Homo sapiens: one gene and its partners. The protein of the gene in region 4 interacts with the protein of the main gene of each other region in a pairwise test. Each region holds a gene or a part of one and is shown on either strand. Other genes may lie near its edges.

Region 1 (4,740 bases), on a different chromosome or scaffold from region 4:
AGCAGAAACAAATAGATTACAGGTAGGTTCAAAAACGAGGATGAATCTCAAGAATATAATGCCGAAGAAAAATAGCAAGTTGCAGAAGAATATGTACACTATAGATCCATTTACACATGTAAAACTATGACATGTTGAGGCCACAAACATATAGTAAAACTTAAAAAAAAAGGGATAAATAAAAATTGGACAGTGGTCATCTCTTGGGAGTTGGGAAAGGGATGTAGTTGGAGAAGGCATGGAGGTTAGTCCAGAGATGGGGGAGGTTGCATTCTCTTCTTTAAACTGTAGGGGAAGCACATGGCTGGAGTATTACCTATGTCTTACACAGAAAAATTGTATGTGTCTGCTCAAGAATTAATAAAAGTACTAAAAAATGTGGGTAGCCCAGAGCACAGATTGAGAGCCACACAGGTAGGAAATGGAAAATAGTTTGAGTTTGAGTAATTAGGACTTAGGCCTAGGGCTGGCATTCATGGGCACTGTGTGACTTTTTTAAAGCTTTTGTCTATCATACCTTCTGCCCCACCCTTGAAAACATTTACTGGGAAATTCTGTAACCTTGTGAGTGGCCACCATTCTACAATGTTATTATTATTTTTTTAATCTTGTCTCCAAATTGCTCCAGTTTTTTTTTTTTTTTTTTTTTTTTTTTGAGATAGAGTCTCAGAGTCTCGTTCTGTCACCCAGGCTGGAGTGCAGTGGTGCGATCTCGGCTCACTGCAACCTCTGCCTCCCGGGTTCAAGCAATTCTCCTGCCTCAGCCTCCTGGGTAGCTGGGATTACAGGCGCACGCCACCATACCCAGCCAATTTTTGTATTTTTACTAGAGACAGGGTTTCACCGTGTTGGCCAGGCTAGTCTCGAACTCCTGACATCAGGTGATCCACCTGAGAATTGCTTGAACCTGGGAGGCGGAGGTTGCAGTGAGCCGAGATTGTGCCACTGCACTCCAGCCTGGGGGACAGAGTGAGACTCTGCTTCAAAAAAAAAAAAAAAAAAGGTAATGGTGCCACTGAGACATACAGTTCTACTGATCTAACTACACCTGACCTGCTCTCTTCTGAAGAAATCCTTGCCTAGACATTACATGAATTTATTGCTAATTTTTGTCTTTTTCCCTTTATTTCAAATGCAACATTAAGGAATCATTTTAACAATTTTTAGGAAACAAAAGGAGTTACTCTTACAATGAAGGAACCAGTGAAAATCACTTGGTCTAATGGTAGGGTGACTTGATTTATACCTGTTGCCCTAGTATAATTATTCATAATGTTCCCTTTTACTTTGAAAGGTGACCTAACTTGGGCAATGAATAATAAGGTTACCCCAAATATTCTGCATATATTTTTAGAGGCCTTTATGTTATCAGAGAATGAGAGTGTTTAACCAAAAAGTGAGATTTTGGCCTAGCACACATTTCCCTAAGAATAGATACTCCATACCATTCTCCTTCCATCTCACTCCAAAATTGTTTCTCAGCCCATTTCCTGGTGTGAGAATGCTCACACAGTCTCTTTTCCTGGGTTCAGTCTTCTTCGAGTTAGATCCATTGAAGTCCATCCGAAGTAGGGGGGCCATGATCTCCACATGTCAAAGGCCAAAATACAGCAGGTGACAAAATAAAATCAGGAAAAATAGGCCACTGCCTGGATGCTGTATCTGAGTATATAAATACGGATTTAATTCTTGAAACTCACCTTTAGGAAGCTGATTAGGAGACCAGGTCACTGACTCTCTAGAGACCTTACAAATGTGGGAGACAGATACACACATAATGAAAAGGGACCAGAGAGATGGGTAAAAGCTCTTACCATTTCCATAAAGGACAAGGAGGTTGGAAAAGGAAGGAGCTCTCACCACACAGTGGTTTTAACTCAGAAGAAATTATTTGAGGTGGCGCAGAAGAGATTTTTAGGTAAATGAAACTCTTTTGTATGCTACTGTAATGGCATATATTATAAAATGGTAGATGTTATGCACTTGACAAAACCCACAGAACTTCATACAGTGAGTGAACCCTGATGTAAACTATATATTTTAGTTAATAATAAGCTATCAATATTAGTTCATCATTTGTAACAAATGTACCACACCAGTGTAAGTTGTTAATAACTTAGGAGAAACTGAGGTGGGGGAAAGGAAGTATGTGGGAACTCTGTATCTTCTGCTCAATTTTCTGTAAACCAAAAATTGCTCTGAAAAAAGGAAGTCTATTAATGTAAAAAAAAAATACGCATTTTAAGAGTTCAAAAAAATAATGTTAATGATAAAATATAAAAGTCATTACAAATACTCCTTCATGCATGTGGAAGAAAAGAAAAATTATTAACTGGCAGATAAATCTTACTAGTAATTGTACAACTTTTGGAAACATAGAGAAATGACTTTCAATGGTATCATCAGGGCAAGAAATTATCAAGACAGATACTGAAGTTATTTTCCCAAGACATGGCAACAATTTTAAAAGTTTTAGAAATATAACAGTTCCCCTTTGTTAAAATAACTCTTCCAATAACATTATATTACAAACAACAGAGCAAGTTAGTGAAAGTTTTGAATCACTCGTCTTCATTGCACAGAACTGGACTGAAATTCTCATGAAAGCTCTCAATTTAACTCCTCATTTAACCAGATTGCTGTAGGGGAGAAGAAACATCTGCTTCATCCTTCTTCCAATCCTTTTGTTAGCATGAAGACTTGCATTTTTATCATTAGAAGAAGATCATGATGTTTAAATTAACTGGCAAAAATAGCTTTAAAAAAAAAACTAATAGTGAAATAAAAAGCAAAATAGGGTATTATGGGTGGGCCCTAATTCAATATTACTGGTGTACTTATAGGAAGAGGAGATTAGGATACAGACAACATAGAGGAACACATCTAAGGATGTAGTGGGAGGTGGCCATCTGCAAGCCAAGGAGAGGCCTCAGAAGAAACCAAACCTGCCGACATCTTGATCTTGGACTTCTATCCTCCAGAAGTCAAAGAAAATTAATTTTTGTTGTTTAAGTCACTCAGCCTGTGGTACCTTGTTTCGGCAGCCCTAGCGGACTAACATAGGAGGGAACAGTGTAAGAATTTAGTGACTCAGGCAGGGCGTGGTGGCTCACGCCTGTAATCCCAGAACTTTGGGAGGCCAAGGTGGTCAGAAGTTCGAGACCAGCCTGGCCAACATGGTGAAACCCTATCTCTACTAAAAATACAAAATTAGCCATGGGTGGTGGTGCGTGCCTGTAATCCCAGCTACTAAGGATGCTGAGGCAGGAGAATTGCTTGAACCCGGGAGGCAGAGGTTGCAGTGAGCCGAGATTGCGCCACTGCACTCCAGCCTGGGCAATAGAGTGAGATTCTGTTTCAAAAAAAAAGGAATGTAATGACTAGGGAAACATCTTGGATTAGATTAATTTGGGGGTCTCACCCAGCTCTCAAAATATATTTTTCCATGTTTTTTCTCTTTCATAGCAAGCAAATCCATGGACCAAAATGCCACCTCATTCAATACTCATTTTCACCTCATCCCTAGCAAACACAAGGCACATTTTAGCAGCATCTTTTTGATCACTCGATGGATACGGAACTGGGTTTCTGGGAGGTAGTTCTAACTTGGGTTTTAGCCTCAATCCCACCCCGAAATCAGAAGGTTCCCCTCTCCCTCCCTGCCTCTTACTTAAGGAGAGATCGTGTTTGGGGGTTGGAGGGAAGATCTGGAAGAAAGTTAAGAACACCAAGCTTAGGAAGGAGAGAATAAAGGATATAATTAAAATACAATAAAAAATGCACAGGCAAATGCTGGGCGTGGTGGCTCACGCCTGTAATCCCAGCACTTTGGGAGGTGGAGGCAGGTGGATCACTTGAGGTCAGGAGTTCAAGACCAGCCTGGCCAACATGGTGAAACCCATTTCTACTAAAAATACAAAAATTAGCTGGGTGTGGTGGCATATGCCTATAGTCCCAACTACTTGGGAAGCTGAGGCAGGAGAATCACTTGAGCCTGGGAGGCGGAGGTTGCAGTGAGCCAAGATTGTGCCACTGCACTCCAGCCTGGGTGACAGAGCAAGACCCGGTCTCAAAAAAAAAAGAAAAAAAAAAAAAGATTCACAGGCAAGATGCAGTGTGCTACAGAAGCAAGAGGTCACATGGTGTCAGTCACTCTCCAGGGCGTTTGTTCTTCATCTTCCAAAGTATTAGAGACGCAGCATGAGTTTCCACGGAGGTTAAGTGAGAGAGACTGGGAGATGCAGGGGTAGAAAGGAAAGATGAGAAAACGCAGGGTGTCTAAAAGGGTAGGTTTGCTGCTGCAGCTTGCCAGAATGCATCTGCTTTAAAGAGAAGGAGTGAGCCATAAGCTCCCAAACAGTCACCCATCTGTAAAGGTTGGTTAGGGGCACACTCACCTTCCAGGCTAAAGTATTCCTGCTAACTGGGATCGGAGAAAGATGAAGAGGATAAATCCTTGTCATCTCCTAGGACCCTGGAACCTTTGCCCCCTTTCTGGGCACCATAATAACTTGCTTATATTTCTGAGTAGTACAGAGGGGATTTTAAATGAAAATGTATTAGACAGGTTGCTGTTGAGCACATGCCCAAGTTTATTGTCTTGCTAACCAAGATATTATCTTGCTAGCCAAGGTGTTGTCTTGTTAAGGGAACCAGCAAGATGACAAAAGAATGGACCTTTCAAGTCAACGTCTACCCAAGCAGCCTGTTTAAGAAAATGATAAAAAGAAAACAGCTCAT
Region 2 (4,139 bases), on a different chromosome or scaffold from region 4:
ACCTTGTGGCTCTCAGCCTTTCTGGAATCTTCTCCCTTGTCCTCCAGACTGCCACCCCCCACTGTCTTCTGCCCTCTCCTTCCCCTGCGCTAGGTCCTCCTCCTCATCCCCGCCCTGTCATTTCCTCATCGTCTGTACCCAACCCCCAGAGGAGGCGCTGATGGGGCCCCAGTCTCACTGTGCCCGTCCACAGCAACCGACTGTGTCAGAAGGAGACAAGGGGGCCGGGGACAAGGGGCAGCACTGTGGTTAGGGCCTGTGCCCTTGGTCTCCCTCCCTCCTCTGCCTCCTTTGCCTCCAGTTTCTGTCCCTTGGATTTGCCTCTCCTCTTTCCTCTCACTCCTGCCTCCCCTTCCTCTCCCTGCACCTTCAGTGAGTTCCACCTGGCTTCCCCTCCACACGCTCCTGGTGGCTTCTCTTTGGCGCTTCTCTCTCTCTCTCTCTCTCTCTCTCTCTCTCTCTCTCTCTCCCTGTCTCTCCCATCTCTCGCTGTCTCTGTCTCATTTTCTCAGTCCGTCTCTGTCTCTCTCGCTCTGTCTCTCTCACTCTCTTGCCATCATTGTCTCTGTTTCTCTCGCTGTCTCTTTCTTTCTCACTCTCTCGCCATCATTTTGTCTGTTTCTCTCACTGTCTCTCTCTGTCTCTCGCTTTCTGTCTCATTGTCTGTCTCTCTCTGGCTATCTCTCTTTTACTGTCTCTCTCTCGCTGTCTGTCTCTCACTCTCTCTCTCGGTCTCCCTCTTACTGTCTCTCTCACTGTCTCTCTTGCTGTCTCCCTGTCTCTTTCTCTCACTCTTTCTCGCTATCTCTGTTTCTCTCAACGTCTCTGTCTCTCTCGCTGTCTCTTTCTCTCTCCATCTCTCGCCATCTCTCTCTCCCTCTCTGTCTCTGACACACTCTATTTCTCCCATCCTCCCCTCCATGGGGCTTTCCTGTTTCCTTTCCATCCTCACCTTCACTCGCTCTTTCCTCTCCGTTTTCTCCCTCACCCCACAAGCTCTCTCCCCTCGCCTCTAGTCCCCCAAGTCCTTCCCAGCTCCGCCTCTCCATGCCCGCTCCTTCCTTTCCAGTTCCTCTGCCAGTCATTGTCCTTGACCCTTCCCTCTCCTCGTCTCTGCTCCCACCGGCTCGTCTGAGCCTGGCGCTGACAGCCTTCTCCCCACCCCGCCCAACCCCACCCCCGACTCCCGCCATCCCCTCGCCTCCTGGTCCCTGTCCCCCTCCCGCGTCCCCGTCTTCTTGATGACTCCAACAGCTGCAGCTGCAGAGGCCCCGAGGCCCCTCGGAGGAGACTGGGCAGGGAGGGCTCCTCCGCATGCTGGGATATTTTTATCCTGCCTTGGACGATCGGGACGATTGGTCCTGCAATCTGTTTCACCCTTTAAGAAACTCATTTCATGTCCTGCCAGGTCCTGGGACCATAAGCTCGCGTGTCTCCACAGTTGCACATTCCCGTCCGTCTGCAGCTCATTATCTGGGCCACAAGGACGTTACCCCATGACTTGGAAGGACGCGCCATCACGCAGGAGGTCACAAAGTGGACGGCAGGAAAGCCAGCCTTCCCTCTTCTGCCTTCCTCCTCACCTCTCTCTCTCTCTCTCAGTACTTTGTTCTTGTTAATATCAGTGTATCAATGAGCCTGGTTTTTTGCCTTTTATTATTATTATTAACATAGTGAGCACAGGCGTTTCGTACTCTGCGTCTGATTTTCCAGCAGCGAAGCCTCTGCCATCCGCCCCACCGTCCCGCTGGCTCTTGCTCATTGTCTTTCCCTTCCCTGCTTGCCTGCTCCCTCACGCCCCTGCTCTGCGTGTTGGATGTGAAAAGGATGTCAGGGACTAGGCGGAGGGCATGTTCCTCCGAGCCCAGGCTGCACCTTGGCACAGTGGAGGGTCCACCCACCCCAGGTAGCCCAGGTGAGGCCCCTGGGTCCCCCTGTCACTCAGGCTGTCCACATGAAAGTCCAGATGTCTCCGACCAACAGATCCCTGGGAGAAAGGACGTGACGCTGCCGCTTCACCGGGATGGGTTCCCACGTCCCTCCGCGTTGACCCACAGCTTCCTTACGGTCTTGTATGTAGTTTGATGCTTTTAAGGGCCGGCCACGGTGGCTCAACGCCTGTAATCCCAGCACTTTGGGAGGCCAAGGTGGGCGGATCATGAGGTCAGGAATTCGAGACCAGCCTAGCCAAAATGGTGAAACCCCGTCTCTACTAAAAAATACAAAAATTAGCAGGCACGATGGCGGGCCCCTGTAATCCCAGCTACTTGGGAGGCTGAGGCAGGAGAATCGCTTAAACCCGGGAGGCGGAGTTTGCAGTGAGCCGAGATCGCGCCACTGCACTCTAGCTTGGGCAACACAGCAAGACTCCGTCTCAAAAAAAAAATTGTTAAGACTATTTTATCCAGGTTCCTACTTGTTTTCAGTTATGGGGTTGGGGGCGGGGTGGGAGGGCAATGACCTGACACAGTGTTACCGGATGAGGAGTCTGGTCTTGCTTTGCTTTCTCTGCCTTTTCTGTCTTGTCATTGGCTCTCCCGCCCTCCTACACGCACCCCGCCTGTTGCTTCTCTCATTCTCCAGTTCCCTTCCAATCCCCCTTCACTTCTCTTTACTCCCCTCCCCCAGGTCAGTGCTCGGCGTTTCCTCCCTCTTTCTGTTCTCCCATCCTCCCGGGCAGCTGTCTCTGTCCTGTTCTGTCTCCTGTTCTCCCGCCCCTCCAGCTCCTTCCCTTCCTCCTTTCTCCTGGGCCCTTCTCTGCCGCACCTTCCACAGCTGCTCTGTTCCTCCCCATCCTCGTCTAGTCCCATTCGTTGTCCTTTCTCTCCCTGGGTCACAGAGATGGCCCCGGGGTGGCTGCGCCCTGTTGAGGCAGGGAACGTTTCTGCTGCATGGCCGAGTTCCCAACCTGGACCCGCCGGGTCTGGCAGCCTGTCCCCGCAGTAGCCTGGGCTGTGCCCACGACACCCCCGCCGCCCAGCTACCCGGCCCTCTCCGTGCCTCACACTGGCTCCTAACCTGCTTCACGTTCCTGCTTCCTGCCCCGGTCTCTGGGCTGACGCTGTCTTAGGGGCGCCCCCTCCTCAGCTGGAGGGGCATGGTCCTCTGTCGCTACTTCCAATCCTCTCTCCCTTCTTTCTCTCCATATTGCTCTTCCACACTCATGCACCTCTTCTTTCCTTTCTGCTTTTTTTCTCGCTCACTCACCCGCTGGAGTGCAGTAGTGCAGCCTCCACCTCCCAGGCTCCAGTGATCCTCCTGCCTTAGCCTCTCAAAGTGCTGGGACCACAGGTGCGAGGCACCATGCCCGGCCTGTTCTTTTCTCTCTGCCCTTTTTTGTATTTTTTCCTTTCTCCTTTCCTTCTTCCCTAATGTCTGTCTCTCTCCTTCCCTTCTTAACTTCCCTTCTCTCTCCAGCCCTCTCCTACCCTCCTTTTCTCTTTTCCCCTATCTCCAGCCCTCTCCTACCCTCCTTCCCTCCCTCTTTCTCTCTCCCCCTCCGCACCGCTCCATCTCCCTCTCGGTCCAGTCCGCTGTCTGTGCCCCCTCTCTGTTCCGTTTTCTCTCCCACCCTTCTTCCCTCTCCCATTTCTTCTCTTTTCCCCTCTTCCTGTTCTCTTTTTCTCGCTGTCCTCTCTGTGGCCACCCTCCTTTTTCTCACTTCTGCTCTCCCTGTCCGGCTCTTCTCTCTCCTCTCTCCCTTCTAGCAGATTCTCTGGCTGTTTCCTCTCCTCTCCCTCTGTGCTCCTCCCTCCTCCTCTCTCCTCCCAGCCACTATCCTCTCTCTTCACCCTCTTCTCTTTCTGTCTCATGGTCTCCTCCTAGCTCTTTTCCTTCCCAGTTCCTAGCTCTCTCCTTTCTCTTTCCTCTTCTCTGGCTGGAGCTCCCCGCTCCTCCATCCCTCCCTCTCCCGGGGCCCCCTCTCCCCCACCCTCTTCTCCCCCAACACCCTCTCCCCCACCCACTTCTCCCTAGGACGCTCCCTCCTTCACCCGTTTCTCTGCTTCCCTCTTCTCCGAGCTCACCAGCCATGGCACCCACCCTCTCCCTCTCTTCCTTCCTGTCCCTTTTTTCACCCCCTCGTCTTTCTTTCCTCTTCTGTTTTTTCTTCTCTTTCCACTTCTGACCCCCTACACTGT
Region 3 (5,206 bases), on a different chromosome or scaffold from region 4:
AACTTCTAAAAAAAATCAGCTGGGTGTTGTGGCATCTCTAAAAAACAAAAAATTAAAATAAAGATAGAAAACAAACTTATTTGTAGTAGCAGTAATGAGTCATTTTCTTACCTTACAAAGACAGTGTATCACAGAGAATTAAAACTCCTAGATTTACAGTTGGTTGTGGAATAGTGGAAAAACGTTTGGTCAAGGGCGTCAGAACATGAGCTCCATTTCCATGTCTGCCATTTTAATTTTTTTTCTACTTTTTTATTTAAGAGACAAAGTCTCACTCTGTCGCCCAGGCTGGACTGCAGTGGTGTGATCACAGCTCACTGCAGCCTCCAACCCCTGGGCTCAACCAATCTTCCCACCTCAGCCTCCCAACCCTGCTACAGGCACCATGCCTGGCTTATTTTAGTTTTTTGTAGAATGGGGTCTCACTTTGTTGCCCAGACTGGTCTCAAACTCCTGGCTTCAAGCAATCCTCCTACCGTTGCCTCCCAAAGTGCTGGGATTATAGGCATGAGCCACCACGGCCGGGCTCTGTCACTTACTGCTGTTCAATCTGGGTAAGTCTTTAACTACCCTGGGCTTTGGTTTCCCAGCGAGAAATGAGGATAATAATACCGTATTACATTCCAAAAGCTAGAATAAAGTAATTGCTGTGAAGGCTCTAAACAAATATAAGTGACCGCTTATATCTGGATCCCTCTTGGGTTTAAACAATTTCTGTAATAGTTGGCCAGGACTGCGGTGATGGATTTGAATTCATCACTGTCATAATAACTCACTTCAATAGGTCTTAACCACATCATCATCATCTTTTTTTTTTTTTTGGAGACAAAGTCTTGCTCTGTCGCCAGGCTAGAGTGCAGTGGCACGATCTTGGCTCACTACAACCTCCACCTCCTGTGTTCAAGCAATTCTCCTGCCTCAGCCTCCTAAGTAGCTGGGAATACAGGCGTGTGCCACCACGCCCAGCTAATTTTTTGTATTTTTAGTAGAGATGGGGTTTCACCATGTTGCCTAGGATGGTCTCGATCTCTTGACCTCGTGATCTGCCCGCCTCAGCCTCCCAAAGTGCTGGGATTACAGGCGTGAGCCATGGTGCCTGGCCTAATCACATCATCTTCTATCTAGTTGTTCAAGCCAATCACCTGGGAGACATCTAAGAACTCTCCCTCCTTGTTGAATCCTGACATCGATGAACAAAACCTGTTGGTTGGTTTGGTTTCCTAACTCACTCTCCTTTTCTTTCCATTCCTACTGCCCCAGCCCTCAATTTTGCTTGATTTATGATAGTAGTCCCCTACTATTCTCCCTGACTGCAGTCTCAGCTCTTTCCTATCTAGTCTCACGTTATGGCAAGAATGACATTTTAACATAACCCCCTCCTCCAAACCCATTCTCAAGATATTTTCCCAGGTTCTATTGTCTGATGTATAAAATGGAACCTCCTCTACACGGCAGGCATATAGAGCCCTAAGTGCTGACTTTTACACTCTTGACTAACCCTTCTTTTGCCACTCCACTACAATTTATGCTGTACCATAATGTACCATGTGTGGTTTCCTGAAAAGGCTATATACACTTTCATGTCTCCGGGCCTTAGCATTCAGCTTTCCTGGTGCCTAAAGTGCTTTTTCCCTAGAGATCTGTATGGCCTGCTTGCTGATTTTCTTGACATTTCTTCTCACTTTTTACCTCCTCTGAGAGGCCCTCCCTGACCACTGTCTTCCCAGCTTCTGTGCTCTTCATCTTTTGTACCATTTCTACCTCTGACAGTATGCATACTTTTGTTGTTTACTGTCCGTCTCCCCCACTGAAACACAAACTCTGAGAGAGCAGGACCTTTGTTTTCTTATGTCTTAATCCCTAGTTCCCATAACAGTAGCTGGCACATGGGAAGCATTCAACCAACAATGGTTGAATGAAAAAATGTGTAGAATGTTCCCTCTGCCTGGAATGTCCTCCCCTGACTCATCACCCTGAAAAACTCTTATTCATCCACCTAGTCTTGGCTCAGATACAACCTCTGCCATGCAGCCTTCCCTGACTGTCCCACTGAAACTCAGGTGCACTTTATCCGAGCTCCAGCGTACTGTGCTGGCATCTCCACTGCAGCTGCCAGATTACTGACTAGACCGTTTGCCTGTCTCTCACTCACAACTAGAACTTTACCTCCTCTTTGAGGACAGGACTCTCTCTTCATTTGTGTGTCCCCAGCTAGTCCAGAGTAGGTGTTAAACAAATGCTTATGGAATGAATACATCAATTTTTAACAGAGCCCTCTGCAAAAGTACACCTGACCCACAAAGGGACTGTGTTCATAAACTGGGCTCCACTAACTCACTGGTTAGAACTTGGTGCTAAATTGACCGAACTCTCTAACACCCATACTAATAGTGACAAAGACACAGAAAGAGGAATAGTTCTTTTTGAAATGATAACTTACCCATAATCCTCTAAGGCACATCCCAGCATAAGAAAAGTCAGTCCAATAGCCCCACTGAAGGATAATGCCACGAGAGCTGTGAAAAATAAAGCCAAAAGTTAAAGTTCCCACAGTAGAGGTTGTCAGGCACTAGAGGGTTTGGGGAAATGGGGAGTGACTTCTAATAGGTCCAGAGTTTCTTTGGCGGATGAGTAAATTTTCTGGAATTAGATAGTAGTGATGGCTGCATAACCTTCTGAATATACTAAAAACCATGAAATCTTACACTTTAAGAATGTTAATTTTATGGTATGTGAATCATTTATCAATAAAAACATTTACTAAAATAAAAAAGAAAGAAAAAAAGGTCCCAAATTCAAGCAAATGTAGCAATTTACTCATTTTATTGAGGTTACATTTGACCCGTTACAGACTGCATTATGTGTGTCCCTTTCAAATTCACATGTTGAAACCTTCCCGGCTCCATCCCTCTCACCGTGAGATGCTATCAGGAGGTGGACCTTTGGGAGATAATTAGGTTCAGATGAGGTCATGAGGGTGGGGTCTCCACGATGGGATGAGTGCCCTTATAAGAAGAGAGAAAGTAGAGCACACACTCTCTCTGTGTTTCTCTCCCTCTGTTCTCCAATGTGAGAGCAGAAAGCAGGCCTGCAAACCAGGAAGCTGGCTCTCACCAGACACCAGATCTGACTGCACCACAATTTTGGACTTCCCAGTCTTCAGAACTGTGGAAACTAAATGTTTGTTGTTTAAGCCACCCAGTCTAAAATATATTTCTTATAGTAGCCCAAACTGATTAAGACAATGACCCATGTCTGCCACCTTGAAATCATAAAGTATACAAAGGTCTCAAGTAATTCCAGTACCTAACCCCTATCCAATGGATGAATTCCCTCTGTATTTGTCACCAGAGGGCAGCCAGTTGGTCCACATAACTCCAGTGAAGGAAAACTCACTACCTCCCAAGGCAAGTCATTTAATTCCAACAGCTTCTAAATGTTGAAAGCCCTCCTTCTTTAAATTATATCCAGAACTGCCTCCCTGTAATATATACCTTTGATCATTTTGCCTCCCCAAACCACAGTACTGCAAGTATTTGAAGATTGTTTTCATGTCTTTGTAGGAAACAATTCCCAACTAGTGTGCACTGAATAAAATATGTATTCCCTGTATCTATTGGACACTAGTCTCTGCGGGAGTAGGAACGTATTTGCCCTTGTTGTGCTGCTGAGTGAGAAACAGAGTATCAAGGTTGTTACAAAATCTTGAGCTCTGAGTCACAAACATGAGTCAAATCTTAACTCTGCCACCATCTGGTCTTATGACTTTGGGTAGAAGCTAATCCTCTGAACCTGATTTCTCACCTGTAAAATGGAAATAATGGTGCCACCTTATTGAGCTTATGGGAATTAAATGAGATAATCTATGTAAAGTGCTTGGCAAAAGGAGGTAGCCAAATAAATGCTGACTGACTCAGGTATCTACTCATTTTAGCAATGTTCTTTGATAAAGGTAGAAATCAAAAGCATAGGAGACTATCTTATCCAAATTTTCTTCTGAAAAAAGTCCATAATACTCATAATTAGTATTAAACTAATTAATTAAGCCAATGAACATTTTTGATTGCTTCCTTTTACTTGAGAGAAGATTTAGAGAGACTCTTTAATAGGAAGGTGCCAAAGTGCTTTTTAAAAAACATCTGAAAGTATACACATGTTAAGGGACAAAGAAACACTGTCAATTTTAACATATCTTTTTACATTTCCACTCTTTAATGGAAAATGCCCATGTGTGGATGGAAAGCAAATACCACATACTATTTCATTCAGATGATCTTTTCCCAGCAGGCTTTGCTCCTCTCCTCTGTGCCTGACCATCGGCAGTACCCCCTCCTCCATGAGGCCTGTCAAAGCTAGGTACTGCAGACCTCTTCCTTCTGTTCTGATACCAGTTTCTCAACGTTCACAACCATCTTTCTGTTTGATTCTTTTTGGTCTTTTTTTTCCTCTTTTTTCAGGAATCACATCCTCTGAATCTCTTAAAGTTGGAGTTGACCAAAAATCCAACCCCATCTCTCTTTTCACTCCACGCACTCCTGCTGAAAACTTATGTTCAACCCAAAGCTCCTACTACCACAAGGGCCCGGCCGCAACTGATGCTCCAGCCCAGAGTAGGTCCTAAAGAACTAGGCCTGTACTTCCACCTCCAGTCTGGACTTCTCTGCCTTGACCGCCAACAAGAACCTCAAATTCAACATGTGTAACACGTGTAAAACCAAACCACTATCCCTACACTTTAAAGGTCCTATCTTAGAGGACTGACACCATGATTGCATTCCACCTTCCAATGAATCAGTAGGTCAAGGTGACTCAATCTCCCAGACTTCTTAAACTCTCTGCTACAGCCCTGGTGCAGGCCCTTAACCTCTTATTCCTGCCTCTGTGACTCTTCCAATCCATCCTCTACACAGCAGACAGTGATCTTTCAACTATATATATCACCGCTGCCATCCCTTTGCGGTTGCTTCCACAGCCTACAAGTTGTTCTGGCACGGAGGCTCACCATCGCCTGACTCACTCCTAACTGCCTGTCCAGCCAGCTTCAACCCTCACCACTAAGTTCTGGTCTTACTAATGTAGCTTAAGTACCTGAAGAGAAGAAGGCATGTTGTTTCATAAGCCCTGCGCCATGTCACGTGCTGTCCTCCCCACTTGGGATATACTCCACCTTCACTCCATGCCTTGCCAAGGGAAGCCACATTGATCC
Region 4 (5,206 bases):
GGAAGGGTCATGATCAGAAGGGTCTGGGGCTCAGTTAAGGGTGTCTGTGTCAGCAGAATAACCCTAACCTCACAGAATGGCCCACTTCTCTCTTCTAGGCCACATTCGTGGCTGACTGGCGGAACTCGAATCGCTACCCTGCTGTTATTCTCTTCTACGTCAATGCGTGCTTCTTTGTGGGCAGCATTGGCTGGCTGGCCCAGTTCATGGATGGTGCCCGCCGAGAGATCGTCTGCCGTGCAGATGGCACCATGAGGCTTGGGGAGCCCACGTAGGTGTCTTGGGGACCCAGAGGTGAAGGTACAGGGAGGAAGGCTGAAGTGTGCGTTTACCCCAAAGGGAGCAGGTGCGTGTAAAACCGAGATCCAGGGCAGGATCTGGCTCTGCCCTACTGCATACTGCATGCAAGATCTCCAGTGTTAGGATCTTAGTTTCAGAATCAGGACCTTCATGGTTTGTATCTGCTCAAAGGGGCGGCTCCTAGAGCCTCCTCAGATCTGACCTGGGTCCTGTCTCCAAGCCCTGACTTCTGGGAACCTCCAGACCTCAGCAGCTGAGGGTCTGGGCACAGGGTGGGGAGACCAGGTAGAGGGAGTACAGAGTGACCGCCTCAAGTGACACCTCACCTCTCTGCACAGCTCCAATGAGACTCTGTCCTGCGTCATCATCTTTGTCATCGTGTACTACGCCCTGATGGCTGGTGTGGTTTGGTTTGTGGTCCTCACCTATGCCTGGCACACTTCCTTCAAAGCCCTGGGCACCACCTACCAGCCTCTCTCGGGCAAGACCTCCTACTTCCACCTGCTCACCTGGTCACTCCCCTTTGTCCTCACTGTGGCAATCCTTGCTGTGGCGCAGGTATAGTGACTGGTAGGAACGGGAGACCTGGATGGGGTGAGTTTGAGGGAGGGGGCCAGTAACCCACCTTCTGTCCCACCCCTTCCTGCTGCAGGTGGATGGGGACTCTGTGAGTGGGATTTGTTTTGTGGGCTACAAGAACTACCGATACCGTGCGGGCTTCGTGCTGGCCCCAATCGGCCTGGTGCTCATCGTGGGAGGCTACTTCCTCATCCGAGGTGAGTGAAGACCAGGCCAGGACCAGTTGGGCAACAAAATATACTGGGCACTTGCTGCCAGTACTGGGAGCTGCCAGCACGGCTGCCCCCATGCTGAAACCCCAGCTAGCTCCTATAGGGCCTTCACACAGTAGAAGGTGACCCTCTAGGCAGACGAAACACCGTGAGCACTTGCTGCGGGACAGCACCTTTGTACTGGCCAGAAAAATCCATCCCTCTCTCCAGGGCCTTGGCCCAGGGCTCACAGCTTGTTTTTTTTGTTTGTTTTTGTTTTTGAGACAGAGTCTAGCTCTGTTGCCCAGGCTGGAGTGCAGTGGCACAATCTTGGCTCACTGCAACCTTCGCCTCCTGGGTTCAAGTGATTCTCCTGCCTCACCCTCCCCCATAGCTAAAATTACAGGCATGCACCACCACGTCTGGCTAATTTTTGTATTTTTAGTAGAGACGGGGTTTCACCATGTTAGCCAGGCTGGTCTTGAACTCCTGACCTAAAGTGATCCACCACCTCAGCCTCCCAAAGTGCGGAGATTACAGGCATGAGCCACAGTGCCCAGCCTCACAGCTTGTTAGGTGGAGTTGGGTCAGGATCCAGCCCCAGTCAGCTCCTGGCCGGTGCACTTGTGTGATGAACACCCTGAGTAACCTACTCTGCCCACTTGGACCAACCTAGGTCGTTTGGTTATCTGTGTGCACATTAATTCGATATGTACTGTCAATCTTCTGGAGCTTGGTTTTCATCTTCTTTCTGTCCCCGGCACACACAGCTCTCACAGCATGCGTGGAATTAGTGGTCCCTAACTTTCCTGTCTCATGCTGCCATCCCATAGTAAGCCTCAGCATCTATTTAGCTCATTGTTGTTGGGTTTTCTTTGTAAACCTCAGTTTCCTCACCCTGAACTGCCAGCCTTCTGTTCAGTCACCTCTTTCCCCTCTTTTTGGCATAGTGTCTGGCCCTCTGATTTGTGCTTCGTTATCATGCTGTCCTAGTATGGTAATCACTAGCCACATGTGTTGAACTAGTCCAGCCTGGGTGCGGCGGCTCACTCCTGTAATCCCAGTACTTTGGGAGGCTGAGACGGACGGATCACTTGAGCTCAGAGTTCGAGACCAGCCTGAACAACATAGTGAAACCCCATCTCTACAAAAAATACAAAAGTTGCCTGGGCAGGGTGGCACATGCCTGTGGTCCTAGCTATGTGAGAGGCTGAGGTGGGAGGCTTGCTTGAGCCCAGGAGGTTGAGGCTGCAGTGAGCCATGATCTTGCCACTGCACTCCAGCCTGAGTGACAGAGTGAGACCCTGTCTCCAAAGAAAACAAGACAACAACAAAAAGAAACAAGTCCAAATTGAGATGTGTTGTAAAATGTGAAATACACACTGTATTAAAAAAAAAACTTAGTGGGAAAAAAATGTAAAATATCTCATTAATAATTTGTTACATGGATTACATGTTGAAATGATTTTATTTTGAATATATTAGGTTTGTAAAATATATTGATATTAGTTTTGCTTGTTTCTTTTAACTTTTTTTAAGTGGCCACTAGAAATTTGCCATATGTATGTGGCTCACATATTTCTATGGGAAGGCCGGCATGGTGGCTCACACCTGTAATCCCAGCACTTTGGGAGGCCGAGGTGGGCAGATCACCTGAGTTCAGGAGTTCAAGACCATCCTGGCCAACATGGTGAAACCCCATCTTTACAAAAATACAAAAATTAGCCGGCGTGATGGTAGGTGCCTGTGATCCCAGCTGCTTGGGAGGCTGAGGCAGGAGAATTGCTTGAACCTGGGAGGCGGAGTTTACAATGAGCCGAGATCACGCCATTGCACTCCAGCCTGGGCGACAGGGTTCCATCTCAAAAAAAAAATTATATGGATAGCGCTGTTCTTGAGTCTGTTTTATGTCTTTCCCATCAGAACAGCTTTGATCTGCCCCCTTCTTCAGGGGCAGCTGGGCCACGACCGAGGCTCCCTCTTCTCAAGTGTCTGTCTAGGCTCTGCCCTGGTCTTCTCACCATTTCTCCAGTGTCTCTAGCTCCCCAGGTTTTCATTTAGCACAGGGGTAATCAGACTTGGGACTCCAGAGCCTTAGGACCCTCCTCCCACTCACCCATCCTTCCCAGCAGGGCAGCCTCACCCCTGCTAATGTCTGAGGTCCCCCTTCTGTTCAGGAGTCATGACTCTGTTCTCCATCAAGAGCAACCACCCCGGGCTGCTGAGTGAGAAGGCTGCCAGCAAGATCAACGAGACCATGCTGCGCCTGGGTGAGTGGCCCCGGGGGACTTCGGTCTGAGGTCCTGGCCAGCCCAACACTGCACCCTCCTGGGGCTATGCGACCGGCAGGATGCAGTAAGTCAGTGGGACAAGTTAGCCATAGGGACAAGGACAAGGGGTGTGTGTAGGTGGTAGTGGTAGTGGCAGCTCAAAAGAAGGGGGTCTACTCGGGGGGAAGAATTCAGTCAAGTTCATGCCGGGACTGGTTCCTCCTGCCCACTACGTCCCACGTGGTCCCTCCCACAGTTGCTTCAAGTGCCCTTCTTATTTTATTTTAGAGAAAGCAGTTCTTGGACTGAGCCCAGCATGAGTTCACCCCAGCCCCAGCTGGGTGAACTTTGAGGCCCAGTGGGGCAGACTCTCTCCTCCCCACTGCTGCTGCGGGACTGGGCTTGGTAACGTCCTGTCCTGCCCCTGTCCTCCACAGGCATTTTTGGCTTCCTGGCCTTTGGCTTTGTGCTCATTACCTTCAGCTGCCACTTCTACGACTTCTTCAACCAGGCTGAGTGGGAGCGCAGCTTCCGGGACTATGTGCTGTGAGTGAGGGGCATGGAGGCGGCAGTGCTGGGAGCTGGAGCCAAGGCCATAAAGACACCCACCTCCACCCACCGGGCAGCAGGGATTTGCCAGGTCCCTGCTGCAGACAGCAGATTCAATGGATGGTGTCTGGGTGCATAAGGCATCAGTCTCCGTAGTTTCTCAAACGTGGCAAACAACCTTCGCATCCCTTCTCACCTCTGCCCTTCCCTCTCCACCCCCTTGGTTGCCCAGCTGGTGCATGTGTGACTGTTAAGCAGCCAGTTCAGCTTCGTCTTCTCTGACTGACACTAAGTTGCCCTCTAATTCTGTGTGCTCTCCTGCAGAGCCTGCTTTAGATCCTGGCACAGGACTAGTTACCTCTCTGTGATAGGTTAATGACCTGCTAATGTTGGCTAGTTTTTGCCTGTGCTTTTTTGTGTCATAATGAGGATGGATTGGAGAGAGTAAGACATTGCTACTGCTGAGAGAAGCGCAGTACCCACTGTTACAAGGACAGTCGCTAAAATGGATGCTAGTCCAAGCCCTGACTGCTTCAGGCTCTTCCGTAAAGGTTCCGGCTTCCAGTCTGGGATGCTTTAAACCACAGTGATGCCTGAGTCTCTGCCCCAGAGATTCAATTTAATTGTCTAGGGTGGGTCCCAGGCATCAGTAGCTATTAAAAGCTCCCCAGTTGATTCTAATGAGCACCCAGGGTTGAGATCAGTGCTGTGGAGCTTAGCCCTTTCTAAAGTTTTTGGATTGATTGTCTGAGTCTACCCAGTAGACTCAGAAAACCCCACCTGTAGTCCCAGCTACTTGGGAGGCTGAAGCAGGAGATTGCCTGAGCCCAGGAGTTGGAAGCTGCAGTGGGTTGTGATCACGCCACCGCACTCTAGCCTGGGTGACAGAGCAAGATCCTATCTCAAAAAAAGAGAGAGGAAAAGAAAGGAAAGCCTCACCTGTCTACGTTCCCTCACTGTAGATGTCAGGCCAATGTGACCATCGGGCTGCCCACCAAGCAGCCCATCCCTGACTGTGAGATCAAGAATCGCCCGAGCCTTCTGGTGGAGAAGATCAACCTGTTTGCCATGTTTGGAACTGGCATCGCCATGAGCACCTGGGTCTGGACCAAGGCCACGCTGCTCATCTGGAGGCGTACCTGGTGCAGGTGGGCATGGCAGCCAGCCCCTCCTGCCCTGCCCGCCTCACCCTCAGCCTTGGGACCCCATCTTTAGGTTTTGTCGGGTCCTGCCTCTAGCACAGCCTTGGTCAGTGGTTCACCGCTGCCCCCTGGTGGCACCTTCTGTCCTTGGGTGGCCTGATGCCTGGGCCTGGGC

The links.
Region 1: the proteins of SMO (region 4) and HMGN4 interact in a two-hybrid assay, tested with the Homo sapiens proteins (one large-scale study listed by BioGRID and IntAct).
Region 2: the proteins of SMO (region 4) and EMC10 interact in a two-hybrid assay, tested with the Homo sapiens proteins (one large-scale study listed by BioGRID and IntAct).
Region 3: the proteins of SMO (region 4) and LEPROT interact in a two-hybrid assay, tested with the Homo sapiens proteins (one large-scale study listed by BioGRID and IntAct).

Annotation. Positions count from the first base shown.
Region 1 is NC_000006.12:26,539,684-26,544,423, reverse strand, and holds part of HMGN4 (high mobility group nucleosome-binding domain-containing protein 4), read right to left. Parts: intron 1-4,740.
Region 2 is NC_000019.10:50,488,370-50,492,508, reverse strand, and holds the end of EMC10 (ER membrane protein complex subunit 10 isoform 2 precursor), read right to left. Parts: 3' UTR 1,638-4,139; downstream 1-1,637. UniProt on the Homo sapiens protein: Part of the endoplasmic reticulum membrane protein complex (EMC) that enables the energy-independent insertion into endoplasmic reticulum membranes of newly synthesized membrane proteins.
Region 3 is NC_000001.11:65,422,613-65,427,818, reverse strand, and holds part of LEPROT (leptin receptor gene-related protein), read right to left. Parts: intron 2,517-5,206; coding exon 2,441-2,516; intron 38-2,440; coding exon of another isoform or gene 16-37; exon of another isoform or gene 1-15. UniProt on the Homo sapiens protein: Negatively regulates leptin receptor (LEPR) cell surface expression, and thus decreases response to leptin. Negatively regulates growth hormone (GH) receptor cell surface expression in liver.
Region 4 is NC_000007.14:129,205,512-129,210,717, forward strand, and holds part of SMO (protein smoothened precursor), read left to right. Parts: intron 1-98; coding exon 99-271; intron 272-638; coding exon 639-858; intron 859-952; coding exon 953-1,076; intron 1,077-3,247; coding exon 3,248-3,340; intron 3,341-3,777; coding exon 3,778-3,886; intron 3,887-4,851; coding exon 4,852-5,037; intron 5,038-5,206. UniProt on the Homo sapiens protein: G protein-coupled receptor which associates with the patched protein (PTCH) to transduce hedgehog protein signaling. Binding of sonic hedgehog (SHH) to its receptor patched prevents inhibition of smoothened (SMO) by patched.